2 linked regions of the Homo sapiens genome follow. The protein of the gene in region 1 interacts with the protein of each later gene in a pairwise test. Each region holds a gene or a part of one and is shown on either strand. Other genes may lie near its edges.

Region 1 (3,726 bases):
CTTTCTGTTCCTCTTTAAAATATAGATGGGGCTGGGTTTGCTTCTTTGGCACTTGAGGCAGAACTAATTAAAAAGTGAGGACACAAAGAGATAATTAAGTTGTCCTTGCTTCTAAGTAAGTATTTCTGTTCCTGCCTGGCTCTGAAGTTAAGTGACTATAATTAGAAGGAAAAAAAAATGGAAATGTAGATTTCCCACAGGTTGGTATTCTTGGTATTTATTTCATTTATCTCGTAGAATTTAAAAAAATAGTAAATGACAAAATTTTAAAATAACACAAGCCCAGCAAAGAATGCTGGATAACAAATGATTAATTCAGGAAAATCTTCCAAAGGATTTGTGAAAAAGAATACTCCTTTCTTTCCCCCATGAGTGAACTCTTGCCTTCTTTTTGAAGTTGACTATTGGAAAACCCAAAGATGCTTAGACAGGGCAGAATGAGAAATAGTTAATCCTCTGACAGGTGGGCTTCGATAACAGTTGTGAAATGTAACACATTTTTCTTTTCACTTATAGTTGGCAGAAGGGCCAGTGAAATTTGAAAGTTGACCTCATATTAATCATGGGTCATCACAGTGTCTTTACACTTGGAACATGTGCATTTCTTTGTCCATCAAAAGAAACAGAACAACCGAGAAAAGGCTAGAGAAGACCATCTTACATGATTTAAGGAATAAAAAGACTTCCCTATGAGAACAGTCTAAATTTTAGGACTTTAATTTGGAAAGATACAGAAGCATAAGTTCAGAGTATAAAATGTTGACTGTACAGATCTCCTAGAGTCCCCTTTACGCTGGATATTTTTATATTACCTGATTATTTTTTTCTTAATCTTTGATTATTCTTTATGAATCTCGATTTATTCATGATGTTCTCTCCAGTGTTAAGTTTGCATTTCTGACCTTTTCTATTGCTTGTTTCACTTTTAAGGAAATGACTTGAAGTTGTTCCACCCCCATGGTGCCATTTACCCTGAGAGAACTACAGAATAAAGCAACCATAAGTTTGCCCTTGGTGTTGATAACCAGTAGCTCTGGGAATAAACTATGCTTACCTGTTTTCTACAGCATATGGTCTGTCTAGCTTTCATTGCCTCTCTAGCTGTTTTGAAAATCCCAATTAGAAAGCCATGCCAGCTTACTAATTAAGAAAATAGGCCTTGGTGTCAAAGACTTCATCTTCAGATCTGATCTTATTTTGCTACTTAGGAGTTCTGATACTGGGCAAGTCACCTAGCCTGTGAGCTTCATTTGCTTATACAGTTGTTGGAATTAGATGTGGTGACATGCGAAAAGCACAAAGCCTGGCTCCTATCAAGCTTCTGCATCTATTTTTTTTTCTATTTTTCTCTCAATTATTGGAAGCTCATAGAAGCATTTTGGGATAGAATTTTAGTAGTTTGCAAGTATTTTTAAACATTTTATCATAGGTACACTTATAATTTTGATATGATCTCAGTATTAACCTGATAACTCCCAAATTGATATTTTCCTAGTTCAACTGAAATTAAAGGGAGAAATATGGGATTGTAGGAGTGCCTTGTCCTCAAATTGACTGTATTTCTGTTTTGAGAAAGATCTTGGTACTGATCACGTAGTCAACTTTCTAATGCAATGTTAAAGTTTATATATTTGTAAATGTTATTGTTATAAAAGCATAAAACCAGAAATTAAGTCTTAGATTTAGTTTCTACATCTTTTATTGGAAGATGACTGTAGATAAATATCTTTCTGTATATCATTTTAATAAATGAGAAAAAAGAGCTGTTGAATGAAAGATCATGAACATCAGTATTTATCTGAGGAACATCCTGCGGAGGAATCCCTTTCCCCATTTATTAAACACAAAATTGCCAGTGTTTCAAGTAGTTCTCTGATCGATAGACCAACAACTGAAATTAAATGCTTTTAGTCTCAAGTGCCCATTTTTATTAAAATGTAATTATCATGAACAGAAAAAGCAATACAAGGCGTGTGTTCTTAATAATTCTGCCATTCTCTTTTTGACATTTAAAGGAAGAGCCTAGGCTGGATGTCTTGATCAATAACGCAGGGATCTTCCAGTGCCCTTACATGAAGACTGAAGATGGGTTTGAGATGCAGTTCGGAGTGAACCATCTGGGGCACTTTCTACTCACCAATCTTCTCCTTGGACTCCTCAAAAGTTCAGCTCCCAGCAGGATTGTGGTAGTTTCTTCCAAACTTTATAAATACGGAGACATCAATTTTGATGACTTGAACAGTGAACAAAGCTATAATAAAAGCTTTTGTTATAGCCGGAGCAAACTGGCTAACATTCTTTTTACCAGGGAACTAGCCCGCCGCTTAGAAGGCACAAATGTCACCGTCAATGTGTTGCATCCTGGTATTGTACGGACAAATCTGGGGAGGCACATACACATTCCACTGTTGGTCAAACCACTCTTCAATTTGGTGTCATGGGCTTTTTTCAAAACTCCAGTAGAAGGTGCCCAGACTTCCATTTATTTGGCCTCTTCACCTGAGGTAGAAGGAGTGTCAGGAAGATACTTTGGGGATTGTAAAGAGGAAGAACTGTTGCCCAAAGCTATGGATGAATCTGTTGCAAGAAAACTCTGGGATATCAGTGAAGTGATGGTTGGCCTGCTAAAATAGGAACAAGGAGTAAAAGAGCTGTTTATAAAACTGCATATCAGTTATATCTGTGATCAGGAATGGTGTGGATTGAGAACTTGTTACTTGAAGAAAAAGAATTTTGATATTGGAATAGCCTGCTAAGAGGTACATGTGGGTATTTTGGAGTTACTGAAAAATTATTTTTGGGATAAGAGAATTTCAGCAAAGATGTTTTAAATATATATAGTAAGTATAATGAATAATAAGTACAATGAAAAATACAATTATATTGTAAAATTATAACTGGGCAAGCATGGATGACATATTAATATTTGTCAGAATTAAGTGACTCAAAGTGCTATCGAGAGGTTTTTCAAGTATCTTTGAGTTTCATGGCCAAAGTGTTAACTAGTTTTACTACAATGTTTGGTGTTTGTGTGGAAATTATCTGCCTGGTGTGTGCACACAAGTCTTACTTGGAATAAATTTACTGGTACAAATTCTTAACTGTGCATTTCTTTGGAGGCTTCACTGAATACAGTCCTTTATCATGTCACCATTAGCCTATGCTGATCTTGGTCTGCCCAGTCTCTTCTTGCCACGTATCTTGTACACTGCTCTGAGAGATAATATTCCTAAAACCCAAATCTATCACATTCCTGCTTAAAAAACAGTGGGTTTTGAGCCTTAAAAAAAAAAAAATTTGGCAGAATTCTTTCTTCAAAAGCGGTGTTTCACTGAAACGTAGAAGCTGGAGGGGGTAAAGCAGGTTATCGCAATGCTGCCAAGGTGGAGTCCCCCACGGCAATTCCTAAAGGGATTTCATAGAATATAGTGGTTTATAAACCACTTTTATTTAGACTAAAGATTAAACTGTTGAAGATAGAGTTGAGGCTCCATGAGACAGCACCATGCTTACCCTATACTCTCATACTCAGCACTGTTCAGTAGAACTTTGCAGTGAGGAAAGGAATACTCTGTGTTGTCTGATGTGATGGACTCTAGAAACATGGGATTATTAAGTACTTCAAATTCAACTGAGAACTGAATTTCTAATTATATGTAATGTTAATTTAAATAGGCACATGTCTAGCAACTGGTATCTTGGACAGTACATCTCTGGTCATCCCAT
Region 2 (8,108 bases), on another chromosome or scaffold:
CTTATGTTGCTTTGCCAGCTTAAGTCTTTCATGGGCACAGGATGGGGTGGGGCAGGCCAAAAAAGCAACATTTGGGCAGAAAAATGGGGTCAGCTGTTTTCACTTAGGGCCATGGTTCCAGGCTTAAGGGTGGGGTTTAGCTGGGAGCCCAGCCCTTCTGTGACAGTGTGATCATAATTCATGGCAGCCTTGACTTCCCCTGGGTCAAGCAATCCTCCCACCTTAGCCTCCGAGTAGCTGGGACTACAGGCACATGCCACCACGCCCAGATAATTTTTTAATTCCTTGTAGAGAGGGGGTCTTGCTTGGTAACCCAGGCTGGTCTCTGACTCCTGGCTTCAAGTGATCTTCCTGGAGTGCTGGGATTACAGGTGTGAGAAACCATGCCTAGCCTCTAGTGTCTTTTTTTTAAGGTTGACAATTTACATTTCCAATAGTCACTCACGTAATTTTAAATTTTCTAGTAGCCACATTTTAAAAAGTAAAAAGAAACAGGTAACAATCAATCTTAATGATGTTTTTATTTAACTCTATATAAAAATTATCATTTCAACAATAAATATAACATTATTGAGAAACTTTAGTATTTTTGTATTAAGTTTTTGTAATTCAGTGTGTATTCTAAATTATGGCATAACTCAATTTGGACTAGCAGCATTTTTTTTTTTTTTTTTGAGATGGAGTGTTGCTCTGTCGCCCAGGCTGGAGTGCAGTGGCACCATTTCCGCTCACTGCAAGCTCCATCTCCTGGGTTCACGCCATTCTCCTGCCTCAGCCTCCCGAGTAGCTGGGACTACAGGTGCACACCACCACGCCTGGCTAATTTTTTGTATTTTTAGTAGAGACAGGGTTTCACCTTGTTAGCCGGGATGGTCTCGATCTCCTGACCTCATGATCCGCCTGCCTCGGCCTCCCAAAGTGCTGGGATTACAGGCGTGAGCCACCGCGCCCGGCCTGAACTAGCAGCATTTTAAGTGCTCAGTGGCAACGTGGTAGGTGGCCACCATGCTGTGCAGTACAGGTAGACTCTCATGTCTAGATCCACTTGCTGGATGATCTTATCTGTGTCAAAGTTCCAATTCCCATCTATTAGTTGATGACTCAAATTTTTATATCTGCTCCAACTATTCTTTTGATCTCCAGTTCCTTATAGTTATCCACCTTCTTCACAGCTCCACTTTAATGCCCCAAGACACCTCAGACTCAGCATGTCTCACATCTAACTCATAATCTTCCCTTTCAAATCTGAAATGTTTTTCTATCTCTGTTATTTACATTACATTACCAGTCAATCCAGTTTCACCAGCACACACCGAAGGGGATTCCTTGATATCTTCTTCTCTCTCAAATCCCTTATACAATTCATCACCAAGTCTTGCCCATTTTATCTCCCACATATCTCTTAAATCTATTCATTTTTTTGGTCATACCCATCATCATTCCCTTTCAAGCCACTATAACCTATTGACTGTAATAGCCTCTAAACTGATCTCCCTGCTTTCATTCTGGCCACCCTCAACTCTACTCTGTACACTGCAGCCATGGTGATCTTTTCAAAAATCTAATCATGTTAATTGCAACTCTCATCAGGTTAACTGTCTCCTCACCATTAAAATACTTAAGGGGGCTGGACACAGTGGCTCATGCCTATAATCCCAGCACTTTGGGAGGCTGAGGAGGGCGGATCACCTGAGGCCAGGAGTTTGAGACCAGCCTGGCCAACATGGTGAAACCCCGTCTCTACTAAAAATACAAAAATTAACTGGGTGTGGTGGCGCGTACCTGTAGTCCCAGCTACTCGGGAGGCTGAGGTGGAAGAATTGCTTGAATCCGGGAGGCGGAGGTTGCAGTGAGCCGAGATCATACCACTGCACTCCAGCCTGGGCGACAGAGCAAGACTCCATCTCAGAAAAAAATAAAAAATAAAAATAAAATACTTAAGGGAGGTAGGTGGATCACCTGAAGTCAGGAGTTTGAGACCAGCCTGACCAACATGGTGAAACCCTGTCTCTACCAAAATATACAAAAATTAGCTGGGTGTGGTGGCATGTGCCTGTAGTCCCAGCTACTTGGGAGACTGAGGTGGGATAATTGCTTGAACCCAGGAGGTAGAGGTTGCAGTGAGCTGACATCACGCCACTGCATTCCAGCCTGAGCAACAGAATGAGACCCTGTCTGAAAAATAAATAAAAAAAGTAAAATAAAATACTTAAGAGTTTTATATTGTTCTTAGGACAAAGTATAAAGCCCTTAGTATGATCTAAAAGGCTCTGTCAGCTCTCCTACCCTTTCCTTCCTGCAAGGCTCTTACCTTTCTAGTCTCATCTCATCACACTCACTCCCTTCTCCACCTCTTTGCATTCCAGCCATTCTGGATGTTTTTTAGTTCTTTAAATGTGTTATACTCCCTACTGTTTTACAGATGAGAAAATCAAGGCTCAAAAATATATGGGCTGTCCAGAGTCACAAAATTATAGCCAAATGACCATTCTAGTATTAGAATCCATGTCTCCTCTTAAATACCTCTTAAATTTTTCTTTACCTTCCCTTTGCCAAGAATACTCTGCCAGGCGCAATGGCTCATGCCTGTAATCCCAACACTTTGGGAGGTTGAGGCAGGTGGATCACCTGAGGTCAGGAGTTTGAGACCAGCCTGGCCAACATGGTAAAACCCCGTCTCTACAAAAATTAGCTGGGTGTGGTGGTGGGCGCCTGTAATCCCAGCTACTTGGGAGGCTGAGGTAGGAGAATCGCTTGAACCTGGGAGGCGGAGGTTGCAGTGAGCTAAGATCAGGCCACTGCACTCCAACCTGGGTGATAGAACGAGACTCCGTCTCAAAAAAAAAAAAATACTCTCTCTAAACCTTTCCCCTCCCCTTTGCCTATTTATCCTTCAGATCTCAGCCTAATTGCTACTTCCTCAGGAAACTCTACCAGGCCATCCTACCTAGGCAAGTCCCTTTGTAATATGCTCTCATAGCAGCAGTTGTAAATTTGCTTTTATTAGCATCATTGCTTGATGTCTATTTTTGTTAACTGGCTCTATGATGACAAGGATCATCTCTGTTTTTGCTCTCTAAATATTGCCAGATCTAGGTTTATAGTAGGCATTGAACGAATGGATGGATGAGTGAATAAGTGAATATGTCAGCCAAGCAAAGAGCAGCCCAGATAAAAGTAACAGTGAGTTTGAAATGCTCCAAGGTCAGAAAGAGCTTTGAGAGCTGGAGCTATAATAGTAAGAGAGTGGAGACATTGGAGAAGTAGATATGGCTGGGTCTTGCCGGGCATTTTAAAGGATTTTGGACACATGGAAGCTACTTCTATTTTTATTTTTGTGGTATTATGTTTGGTTTACCAACTTTTTATTTTTTATTTTATTTACTTTTTTGGGGGGGATGGAGTCTCGCTCTGTCGCCCAGGCTGGAGTGCAGTGGCGCAATCTCAGCTCACTGCAACCTCCCCCGGGGTTCAAGCGATTGTCCTGCCTCAGCCTCCCTAGTAGCTGGGACTACAGGCGCCTGCCACCACGCCCGGCTAATTTTTGTATTTTTAGTGGAGACGGGGTTTCACCATATTGGCCAGGCTGGTCTCGAACTCCTGACCTTGTGATCTGCCCACCTCGCCCTCCCAAAGTGCTGGGATTACAGGCGTGAGCCACAGCGCCCGGCCGGTTTACCAACTTTTATATTGCCAGCAATCAACTAGGGAAAACAATTTAAAATCTAAATAGGGATAGATTTAAAGAGATAAAGATCTGTACAAGAATAAGAGGAACAGTTTTTATTACTATTGGATAGGTGCTGCCTGAAGCTTTAAGACAGAGAATGTACATTTATGCAGCTGCAGTCAGAGCCTGTGTGAGGTTTACTGTAAACTCACTGGCAATAAGGCTCTTAACGACATTTTGATGCCCATGAAGCTTGGTGCCTAGTTTAAAACTAATGAAAACACCTAAACTCTCCAGGTGGACAAAGCCATATTCAGGAGAAATTGAGAAGGAGTTGGTGCAGGCAGCCAATCACAATCCACTTACGCCACAAACTAAATCTCAAACTGCGGTTTGAACATGAGGCTCAAAACATAAGAAGTAAAGAAATGGGCAAAATTCAATTAGTTTCTGGTGAAACGTCCTAAATCCAAAAGAAAGGTGACCAGAAATAGAGAAAACGGAGTGTGATCTTTTGCATTAATGAGAGAGACCGTGTCCCCGTGTGTTAAAACCTGTCATTCTTGTCCTGAATTGGAAAGTGAGCGGAGTGTGACGGGTTCCCATCTTGAACCGTCCGGGGTTGAGTAGTACAATAAACTAACACGGAACTCCAGCTTCCAAAATTCTCTCCAGTGCCTACAGAGCCTCGCGGAGAGCTGTGATTGTGAATGTCAACGCAGATTTGATTAAATCTCTTAGATTTAAGAGATATGTGGAGTCATGACAATAGAAATGTGTACAAGTGAACACATTTCTTAGCCCGTTTCCCCACTGCCTGTGTGATTTATAAAAACGCAAATATAAAATATTTCCGTTCCAGCAGAGACGCCGCTTGCTACGGCGGGTTGCCCGTCTCCACAGGTATCTCCGGCTGACTCTAGAGCTCAACTTCCCCTTTAAACTTCACCCTGCGCTTGCCGATTTGCTTCGGGAATGCCCGAGGCACCGGACGAAGCAGTCGGGTCTGGCCCCAGTCGACTCCAGCCAGGCGGGGCTCCAAGCCGAGACTCCTGCACGCCCGGCCCGAAGCTAGCCCGACACCCTCAGCTGAGTCCTCCGCCGTCCCAGCATTCCCTGCGTCCCTACCATCGAGAGCAGCTTCCGGCGTGGCTGGTGTAGGCGGGTGGAGAAGGATCGGGGCCCTCGCCGCTCTGTCTCATTCCCTCGCGCTCTCTCGGGCAACATGGCGGGTGTGGAGGAGGTAGCGGCCTCCGGGAGCCACCTGAATGGCGACCTGGATCCAGACGACAGGGAAGAAGGAGCTGCCTCTACGGCTGAGGAAGCAGCCAAGAAAAAAAGACGAAAGAAGAAGAAGAGCAAAGGGCCTTCTGCAGGTAAAGAGAGTTTTATGTTTTCCCAGTCCCCTCCGGGAACGGCTGAACTGTTTGGCTCAGGCCCGTTGAGGGGGCCGGGACCGGGGCCCCAGAGCCCCGACTAGACTGATTCTTGGGCCTGACAGGGTGGCAAAGCCGGGCTATAGATTCCTAGTCTGAGAAGAGGCGTCATCTCCTCCTGTGGGACTAGAGGGCTGGTGGGGGAGAAAAGAGTGCCTGAGGTTGGCGTGTGGTACCTCTGGGGTCGCTGGGCCCGAGCCCCTGTATTACCAGAACTCAGCTCCCACGCACATCGTGGCACGGTCTTGAGATTGTGCGCAGAGCACAGCCCTACCATCTTTCGCGCGATTTGGCCGCCGCCTCAAAAATCCGATTCTGATCCGTATTGCCGCGTCTTTGCTGGTTTGCTGGAGCAAGCTAGGACTTATTTTCTTTGGGGGTGGGCAAATGTAATGGAGAGCACACCTCCTCCCACTATCCCGTTTCACGTTGGGGTTGTTGCAGCCTGCACTTTTGGGGTGTGTGTACATGTGTGTTTGCCCGCGCGCTCATGTCATTAATTGCAGAATTTGTGGTGGTGATAACGAATTTTCACCTGCCTAATCCCATAGCATCGCCAAGCTTTAGGGCCTTTAGACCTGAATTATGATACCAATTGCAGGCAGTGCAGATAGGATATTCTGTGGCTCAGAATGGAACTTCTGAGGTCTTAACCTCTAAATCCACTGGTAAGGCAAGGAGAACTGCTGAGAGTTTACAGTTGGATATTATGAACTAGGAACTTACATATTTTGAGAAGTCTGTGTTTTTGCTGCACAAGCTCCTTCACCTTAATAAAAATTATTTTTACTTGTTTCTAATTAAAATCGCCAGAGAAACAGAAAATGGAGAAGTCAGAAGCGATTAAGATGGAATTGAGAGAGGTCGAAGAGAGCTAATCTTCATCTTTCTGAAATTTTGATTAGATAGGAATGGAAGGAGAGTTGTAGCGTTGCTGGAACTCTTCCAGAGCAAAATTTGTTACTCTGGTGGCTGTTCCTGGATTTCGAGTGAAATTCAAACACTGCTGTTTGTCTTGTAAGGTGTTAAGCTGACTGATCCTAATGTATTTTTAACAGTTGTATTTCTTAATATGAATTCTCTCCAGTAGCCAGAATGTCACTTCATTTCGTGCTACCTGATACTATTAATGCATGTAACATATTGCTCTTATAGGTAGGTTATAATCACTTCCAGAGCAGGGGCCTGGTCTTGTGCTTAGATATTTGAGCGTTTTAGTTTTTTAGTAATGGACTGTCTTTGCCTATTTATTTTGACTTTACCCAGCCCATCGTGATATCCTTATTCATGAAACCAGGCTGCCCCGGGGTGTTGCACATGAATCTTTTTCCTAAGGCCTTCAGCATTTATTACCTATCTGGTGTTTAAGTATTTGTTAAGTCTAATTGCTGACCACTATTACAAGTTAAACTACTTGAGGATAGAGACCAGTTCACGCTGTTTATCTTTTAGCTGCTAGTGTGTGTAATGGATATTTTGTTGAGTAAATTAATGAATGGACAATACTGTGTAGGTATGGAAGATTTTTCTGTCATTAAACGAATTCTGTTATGTTCACAATAATGTTTCTGTTTTTGTTTCCTGAGGAAAGGATTTGTAAGTTTTCCAAGATCATTAGAGCATATTCTAGTGGGAAAGTGTCTGTATTAGATTTGATTTCTGCTATTTTATTTTGATCAGCAGGGGAACAGGAACCTGATAAAGAATCAGGAGCCTCAGTGGATGAAGTAGCAAGACAGTTGGAAAGATCAGCATTGGAAGATAAAGAAAGAGATGAAGATGATGAAGGTAAATGGTTAATTTGATCTTTGTGGTTAGAAAAGCTAGAAAATGTAGCCGGGTGTGGTGGCACACACCTGTAATCCCAGCACTTTGGGAGGTCGAGGCGGGTGGATTACATAAGGTCAGTAGTTCGAGACCAGCCTGGCCAACATGTTGAAACCCCATCTCTTCTAAAAAGACAAAAAAAAATTTAGCCGGGTGTGGTAGCACACACCTGTAATCCCAACAACTTGGGAAGCTGAGGCAGGAGAATTGCTTGAGCCCGAGAGATGGAGGTTGCAGTGAGCTGAGATTGCACCACTGCACTCCAGCCTGGCCAGCAGAGTAAGACTGTCTCAAAAAAAAGAAAGAAAGAAAGAAAGAAAGAAAAGCTAGAAAATGTGATATTCCTTAATCAAAATTTATTTACTCGTATAGTGTTTTCTCTGACATTTCACTTGTTACCTCAATTAATGTCACAGATTAAAAAGGAAAAGGTATTTATTAGCAAGTCTTGAAAAAGTTCAATGTGTTAATTAGCTGTTCAGATAGGACAGATCTCAGAGTTTAAAAATATACTTGGTAGAAGGCAAAGTAGTGAGTATTAATAAGATTGAGGGGTTGTTTATTTAACTAATACTTACTGAAGAACTACTATGTACTAGATACTTTCCTAGGTTATTTTCACATACATTCACATTTTAACCTCACAAAACCAAGCAAAGTAACCTACTTGTGCTTAGATATCCATTTTGTTTTTTGGTAATGGACTGTCTTTTCCTATTTATTTTGACTTTACCCAGCCCTTCATGGCTTTACCCAGCCATCTCATTTTACAGATAGGGAAGTGGTAGTTACATGATTTACCCAAAGTGACATAGCTAATATGTGTAGAATAGAGCCAGAATTTCAAACCTAGTGCCTGACTGCACGTTTGTTCCTTTTACTCTCTATTTTTTTTTTTCTTTTTGAGACCGAGTCTCGCTCTGTCGCACAGGCTGGAGTGCAGTGGCGTGATCTCGGATCACTGCGACCTCCCGAGCTCAAGCAATTCTCCTGCCTCAGCCTCCCGAGTAGCTGGGATTACAGGCGCCTGCCACCATGCCCAACTAATTTTTTTGTATCTTTAGTAGAAATGGGGTTTTGCCAGGTTGGTCTTGAACTCCTGACCTCAAGTAATCTGCCCACCTCAGCCTCCCAAGGTGCTGGGATTACAGGTTTGAGCTACTGTGTCCGGCCTG

Evidence for each region.
Region 2: the proteins of RDH14 (region 1) and METAP2 interact in binary tests that used the Homo sapiens proteins (3 or more experiments, as listed by UniProt).

What each region holds. Positions count from the first base shown.
Region 1 is NC_000002.12:18,554,098-18,557,823, reverse strand, and holds the end of RDH14 (retinol dehydrogenase 14), read left to right. Parts: intron 1-2,015; coding exon 2,016-2,633; 3' UTR 2,634-3,101; downstream 3,102-3,726. Other genes in the region: NT5C1B-RDH14 protein, read left to right, coding at 2,016-2,633. UniProt on the Homo sapiens protein: Retinol dehydrogenase with a clear preference for NADP. Displays high activity towards 9-cis, 11-cis and all-trans-retinol. Shows a very weak activity towards 13-cis-retinol. Has no activity towards steroid.
Region 2 is NC_000012.12:95,469,285-95,477,392, forward strand, and holds the start of METAP2 (methionine aminopeptidase 2), read left to right. Parts: upstream 1-4,867; 5' UTR 4,868-4,895; coding exon 4,896-5,046; intron 5,047-6,786; coding exon 6,787-6,894; intron 6,895-8,108. UniProt on the Homo sapiens protein: Cotranslationally removes the N-terminal methionine from nascent proteins. The N-terminal methionine is often cleaved when the second residue in the primary sequence is small and uncharged (Met-Ala-, Cys, Gly, Pro, Ser, Thr, or Val).